Linked DNA regions of Homo sapiens. The protein of the gene in region 1 purifies or fractionates together with the protein of each later gene. This does not show direct contact. Each region holds a gene or a part of one and is shown in the gene's direction. Other genes may lie near its edges. The genes, in order: TUBA4B and IQCB1.

The links.
Region 2: the proteins of TUBA4B (region 1) and IQCB1 purify together in Homo sapiens (co-immunoprecipitation; one large-scale study listed by IntAct). This does not show direct contact.

The regions. Positions count from the first base shown.
Region 1 is NC_000002.12:219,263,032-219,266,852, forward strand, and holds part of TUBA4B (tubulin-like protein alpha-4B), read left to right. Parts: intron 1-3,489; coding exon 3,490-3,535; intron 3,536-3,821. UniProt on the Homo sapiens protein: Tubulin is the major constituent of microtubules, a cylinder consisting of laterally associated linear protofilaments composed ofalpha- and beta-tubulin heterodimers.
Region 2 is NC_000003.12:121,789,942-121,793,762, reverse strand, and holds part of IQCB1 (IQ calmodulin-binding motif-containing protein 1), read left to right. Parts: intron 1-3,547; coding exon 3,548-3,690; intron 3,691-3,821. UniProt on the Homo sapiens protein: Involved in ciliogenesis. The function in an early step in cilia formation depends on its association with CEP290/NPHP6.

The DNA.
Region 1 (3,821 bases):
ACTCCATTCCCCACCCCCCAAAAAAGCATAAACTTTTGTGTTTATCACTGTATCCCTGGCACCTGAAATGGTGCTTGGCATACAGCAAGCACTCAATATTTGTTGAAGAAATTAAGAGTATTCATGGCCTCTTATGTTTTAATCTAGATGCATTAAAATGCTTTAAAAATCTCAGTCTTGGCCGGGCACAGTGCCTCACACCTATAATCCCAACACTTTGGGAGGCCAAGGCAGATGGATCATCTGAGGTCAGGAGTTTGAAACCAGCCTGGCGAACATGGTGAAACACTGTCTCTACTAAAAACACAAAAATTAGCGGGGTGTGTTGGTGCATGCCTGTAGTCCTAGGTACTCGGGAGGCTGAGGCAGGAGAATTGCCTGAACCCAGGAGGAGGAGGTTACAGTGAGCCAAGATCACAAAACTCAGTCTTTTCATTCTGCTTTACATAAGACAGCTGACTGCCATTAGGATAGTTTTCTTTTTGGAGTTGGTGATACCTAGGTTGACTCTGAGAGTCCAACTCCCAAGGCCAGTTGGGAGAAGTTTCAGTGCTACACAAGAGAGTTTTGAGCCCAGTGGGCCCTCTGGGCCCCATATCACTCCATCTGGACAATAATTCCTGAGGTCCATGGTTTCATGGGCCAACCCAGTAGAAGGCTGAGCTTTCTTATCTTTGATATGTTAAGTGGCTGGGTCTCTTCTTTGGGCCTCTTTGTTCCAGGTGGGAGACAGAAGAGTTCTAACCTTCAGTCTGTAGCCAAAGCCAGAGTTAACCAACTTGAGATCATTCCCTAGCTTACTGGGTTGACAGGGTCTCTGAAAAAGTCCCCTGTTTCAACTGCACTATGTAACACAGTGGCTGAAATTTCACATTAGCAACTACTTCCTGGATAGGGTTGCTAAATAAAATACTTTTATTTGCTAAATCTGGCAGACCTAGTCCTGGTTTTGGCTGCTATCTGGAAGAGGGACTGAACTGTACAACAGTCCCCCCTTACTTACAAAGATATGTTGTAGGGCCCCCAGCGGATGCCTGAAATGGCGGATAGTACTGAACCTTATGTACTGTTTTTTCCTATACATGCATACATATGACCAAGTTTAATTCATAAATTAGGCACAGTAAGAGGTTAAGAACAACAATAGGCCAGGTGCAGTGGCTCATGCCTGTAATCCCAGAACTTTGGGAAGTCAAGGCAGGCAGATCACTTGAGGTCAGGAGTTCGAGACCAGCTTGGCCAACATGGTGAAACACCATCTCTAATAAAAATACAAAAATTAGCCAGGCGTGGTGGCATGTGCCTGTAATCCAAGCTACTCAGGAGGCTGAGGTGGGAGAATTGCTTGAACCCAAGAGGCAGAGGTTGCAGTGAGCTGAGATCATGCCACTGCACTCCAGCCTGGGTGACAGAGTGAGGCCCTGTCTCAAAAAAAAAAAAAAAAAGAACAATAATGATATAGAGAAATAAAGCAATGATAGTAATATGCCAGCATCACTGCTCTTGAGCGGTGGGGCTGTTATGAGGTAGAATAAGGGTTACATGAGCAGAAGCATCGCCACAGTCGATCTGATAAGGGATCCGGCTACTCAGTGGCTAATGGGTAGGTAGTGTCAACAGTGTGGATACGCTGCACACAGGGATGTTCTAGACATGATGGAGTAGGATGGCACTAGATTTCATCACACTACTCAGAATGGCGTGCAGTTTAAAACGTATACATTGTGTTTTTCTGGAACCTTCTCTTTAATATTTTCAGACTGTGGTTGGCTGCAGGCAACTGAAACTGCAGAAAGTGGCTAATGGGGGGCTACTGTGGTGTGATTTCCAGGCAACATGAGGGCCCATTTGAGGCTAGTGGCCATGCGTTCGAAACATCAGTCAGCATGGTTCTGGATTTTTCTATGGCCACTGTTTAGCTGGGTGAGTGCAGACACAGAGCTGGGGACAAAACAAATTTAACCAGGGTTCTGGTTTAGTCAAACAAGGATGTTGAAGCTAGTGGGAGGCAAGACAGTTGAGGGGTACAAAAGGGAGTGACCCTGGCTGGCCATGGAACTGAAGACTGGGAGGAAGGAGATAAAGACCGAGGAGGGGCTGCTGTGCACACTCTGCCATGTGGAAAGAGGGGAAGCAGAGCCCGAGTCCCAGATAAATCTTAATTCCAGCATTAATTAATCCCCATGTGACCTCAGGCAGGACACTAGGGATTTCAATTTCCTTTCCTTCATCCTGGGAAAGGGAGGCCCTGCCTTGCCTACCTTACAGAGTTGTTGAGGGATTCAAAGGAGGTACGGAGAGAAGGTGCCTTAAGCATAAAGCAGACTAGGCGCAGGGGCTCATGCCTGTAATCCCAGCACTTTGGGAGGCTGAGGCAGGTGGATCATCTGAGGCCAGGAGTTTGAGACCAGCCTGGCCAACATGGTGAAACCGTGTCTCTACTAAAAATATAAAAATTAGCCAGGCCTGGTGGCAGGTGTCTGTAATCCCAGCTACTCAGGAGGCTGAGGCAGGAGAATCGCTCGAACCCCGGAGGTGGAGGTTGCAGTGAGCTGAGATTGCACCACTGCACTCCAGCCTGGGCAACAGAGCAAGACTCCTTCTCAAAAGAAAAAAAAAAAGATGCATAAAGCAGGATACAAATGCTAGAGACTAGCCTTTTTATTTCAGAATTTTGCCTAAGACTATCGGGAGACTCCTTTTCTGGGGACATAAGGCCAGGCTAGAGCAGCAGTGACTTGCCATGGCCTAGGAAGAGACATTTAGGAAGTGCCTTGAGGCCCTGCTCATCCTCTTGCTTTGCCCTTGGAGAGCAACAGCTGTTTTGGACTAAGCACTTAAGAAAGGTTACCTTGTTAGTACCTCGTAATACTACCTCTCCCCATTCTCCAGAGAGAGAAAAAAAAAGAAGTTTTAATTGCTAGTAGCTATTAGAGGTGGGATTAAAACCAAGCTCTAGGTCGCTTGTTCTATGATATTCTGAGTTTCCAGGCAGGATGTCCTGAGGCTTGATCTCTTGGCCGAGGACTCATTATTTCTGGATCATTGCAGAGATCTTCTTAGTCCCACCCACAGTCGACTTACAGCCCTCAGCAACCCTAGGGCAGGGGAGTGCAGGGGTTTGATGGGTGGGGGCGGTGCTGGAGCTCAGGGTCTTGATTTCTAAATCATCTTCCACCTGTGAAGTGCAGGCTGTGCCACCAGGAAATGGGATTGCGTGACTGACAACAGATACCATGTACCCAGAGGCCTGGATACCTGTGTGGAGTTACTAGCCCTGGCCCCTCCTCTGCCCACCTCAGCTGGCTCCCCTGTTTGGGTGCAGGCCCAGAGCTTGCCTCGTACTCTGTGACCAAGTCAACAGGCCCTGCCCTCCCAGGCCGTTTCTAACAACATCCACCTGCTGAGAGCCACCCAGCGAGTATAAGGAGGAGGCTGGCTGGCCGCTGCAGGCCTCTCACAGATCTATCCCTGCTCACTATCCTGCAGCAGACAGAGAGACAAGACCCCAGCCAGCCCCTGTCCAGGCAGCATGGTGAGTAGAAGGGGCCTTGGGGGGACTGAGCATGCAAGTGAGGGTCCCAGTGGGCCCAAGATATCTGGCGTGAAGGTACCTTGGGAGTCCACATGGTGATGGGGCTACAGTATGTGGCGAGGTGGGGAGAGGGAAAGAGACTTCCAGATGTGGCTGTGGCCCCCAAATGTGCAGGTGTGGGGGGCATCACAGGGGGTAGGGAAGGAAAGTTTAATGGTAACCAGGTTGTGGGGCTGAGCCTAGGCTGAGAAGCAGGGCTGCTGAGGGGGTCTGAATTTAGGTGTGG
Region 2 (3,821 bases), on another chromosome or scaffold:
CTTTCTTTATGTAACCAGAAGAGTTATAAATACTTCCATTAAAAAGATAAGCTGTGAAGCAAAAATTATTTAAGTCTCACATTTTGTGTTTGTTGCCTTTCCAGTATTTTTGCATTTGAGGTTCCAGAATATACTGAAATGCGGTTCTAACCTGTTGGATTCTATTTAATTTTTTAATTTTCAGTTTTCTCCAGTTCAGCACCTTCGCTCTTCTATTAGTTGTAACAGTTCATGCAAATGTCTCTTGCTTCCTTTGTAGCTTGGTTTTTTTTCAAAGGTTATTTCTGTCTTTTTGTGCTCAGGACTTATCTCAGTAATTTCCCCTTCCCATGGTTTTGGGAGAGAGACTGCCCACTGGTCACACTTATGGGTCCAGGTTGATTAGTGTTCTTTAGATTCAGCAAGAGGCATTCTTTTATAGTCACGCCCTTGCTAATGCACTTTCATAGTGGTTTCTTTTTTATTTAGTCATTTCTCGTATTCAGAAACTTTGTCTCTTAAGTACTCTTATTCAGCAAGGTTTTCTGAAGCGGCTAACAGCTGCTCTAGTTATCTTAGAGAAACCTCACAATTTACCTACCTCTATCATAGTGCTGATTTTTAAGTGTTTTAATTACATTTGTTGATTTCATCTTGAAACTGAGCTTCTTAAATGCAGATAGCATCTTTTTTCTCTCTCTCCCTCTGAGGCACAGTGTCTTGGCAGCAGAAAATTTGGTCAACTCCCACTTTAATGGTAAAAATTCAGATTGATTAAATGTAAATCATGGAATTTACTTATTTCAGAATATGACATCTGATCAGTCATTTCATCTTCAGAAGTGTAGTACAGATGCCAGGTGGTCCAGTGCCTACTAATTCTTACAAAGAAACCAGTTGGAAGAATAATTGTTTGATTTTTGAGTGATTAGAGAAACTCTGAACAAAATAACTCGATGTTATTTAATAATAAATGGGGGAATTACATTCAAAATCACTTCAGTTCCTAATAAATGTTTTCAGATATGAAAGTAAAACATATGAATCCAATAAGCACACCTGTTTACAATTTAGTCCCTATTTAAATCACCAAATCTCACTTTTTTTTTTTTTTTTTTTTTTGAGACGGAGTCTTGCTCTGTGGCCCAGGCGGGAGTGCAGTGGCGCAATCTCGGCTCACTGCAAGCTCCGCCTCCCGGGTTCACACCATTCTCCTGCCTCAGCCTCCCGAGTAGCTGGGACTACAGGCGCCCGCCATCACGCCCGGCTAATTTTTTTGTTATTTTTTAGTAGAGACGGGGTTTCACCGTGTTAGCCAGGATGGTCTCGATCTCCTGACCTCGTGATCCACCCGCCTCGGCCTCCCAAAGTGCTGGGATTACAAGCGTGAGCCACCGCGCCCGGCCCAAATCTCACTTTTGTCCTGTCTTTCTGGTTTGTACTTTACTTCCACCTTCATGCTCCATAGTCTTTTCATTTTTGCCATATTTGATAGCCTACATGCCTAAATTGTTTCCCAAACCCAGTTTTCTGACAGATTAAATATTCTAGCAGATGCAATTTTAATGATTACTATGTTTTTCATACTAATAGTGTAAAATGGTATTTAAAATATTGATAATGCAGTATTAGACATTATAATCTATAGCCAATTAGAAGTTAGAAACAGAGGTAGTTTTTTGTCGTTGTTGTTGTTTTGAGGCGGAGTCTCACTCTGTCACTCAGGCTAGAGTGCAGTGGCACGATCTTGGCTCACTGCAACCTCCACCTCCCAGGTTCAAGCTCCTGCCTCAGCCTCCCAAGTAGCTGGGACTACAAGTGCACACCATCACACCCAGCTAATTTTTGTATTTTTAGTAGAAATGGGGTTTCGCTATGTTGGCCAGGCTGGTCTCAAACTCCTGACCTCAGGTGATCCACCCACCTTGGCCTCCCAAAGTGCTGGGATTACAGGCGTGAACCACCGCGCCCGGCCACAGAGGTAGTTTTTTAAAAATCAGTTTAAAAGGAGGCTCTGTTTAGGGCCTGCTCTCTTTTACCCTCTATGAATGGGTAAGAGATAAAACATTATTATCTGCATGCTGTATAACCCAGAAGTTTTGAGGTGATGGAGTTCTGTAGAACAGGCAAGTTGCTATCAGCTATTCTTTGGGAAGGGAGAGGCCCTTACCTACTTCATTTCCAGCTTTCACAAAGAGCAAGAGACACTTAGAACTATTCAACTAGCCCTAGATCTTCTCTGGAATCTTTTGACACACATACACTTTTGAGGTCTTCTCTACCCTTGATAATAGGGATAAGAAAGAAGTTTCAAAACAAATAAATTCTCTACTCTGCCCTAAGTAGAAAGCTAGAGAAAATTTAAGTTGTAATTGATGGAAGAATTTATGAGAAACAACCACAGGCACACAAAATTTTATCAAAATCAAAATAAACTATTTTGAGTTGAAAATTCAGTTGAAAAATCATAATAATCCTAACTATACTATAATGAAGTCTGACTATTAAGAGTACAAAGCTATAGCCAAGGTACCACATTTGTTTACAGTTTAATTCTAAGAATACAGTTTAAAAAAAAGATCTAAGAGAAAATGTTCTTGAGGGAGACACATGTCAAATTAAGTCTATAGCGGTAAACTAAGTAGTTTATTCTGCCTTTCTTCTTATCCTCGTTTTCTTTTTCTGTGGGTGTCTGAAAGCATTTTGAGTATATTTACTGTAAACTGACACTTGTAGTCTCCTTACATAGTGATATTGGAAGCAACAAAAACTAGATGGGAATGGCTAAGGAGAAATTTTGGTGAATAAAAGCAGATAATACAGAAATTATAATTATATAAAATGTTTGTGGTCACATGAAAATTTTCATAACCAGTTATGAAAGTAATGTTCAGTTGTCAATAATTGAGAAATAGGCATAAGAAGAAAATAAAGATCAACTGTAATTACATCATGCAGTAAAAATCACTTGAAATTTTAATGTTTTTTATTTTTTTTTTGTGTAAGTAAATGTAAGTTTTTTGACACAATTTTGATGTCATTCTTCTATATCCTGATTTTCCTTTTACCTGACATTAGATCATCAGTATATTCTCATGTCACTAAATATTCTTCGAACATTTTATGTTTTCATAGTTCATAGAATCCCATCCCATCAGGTGAATGAACCAGTATCTGTTTATCCAACTCGCTGTTGTGAGACAAAGTTTGTTTTCAACTTGTTACTGTTGTAATACTGTGGAGAACATTTTTGAACATAAATTTTTACATATATATCTGATTATTTCCTTAAGAAAATTATTTGTAATAGAATTAATTGGTCATCACTTTTAAGGCTTTTTATTTATATATTTCAAATATTTTTCCAGACTTTTAATGCATATATTCAAATATTTCTACAGAAAGATTGCACAACAGCAGCAGATGACAAGCTATTTTATCATACCTTATTAACACTAGAAATTATCTTAAAATTTTTTCTGTTTACATTTATTTGATTACTAGTGAGGTTATGCATTTTTTCATATGATTTATGAAAATTATGTATAACACACTGTTTCCATCACAGATCCAAACGATCAAAGATGTTGCTGGAGATAAATAGGCAGAAGGAAGAAGAGGACCTCAAATTACAATTGCAACTTCAAAGACAGAGAGCCATGAGACTTTCCCGAGAATTGCAGCTGAGTATGCTCGAAATAGTTCATCCAGGTGAGTGGCAGTATCAACTTTATCAATATAAGAATATTTAGGTTATCTTTTAACAAACCAACTTTTCTAGCTACGTGATGATTTTTTTTTAAATTTGGACTTTTGTCCTTTTTCTCTGTTTTTCAGATAAA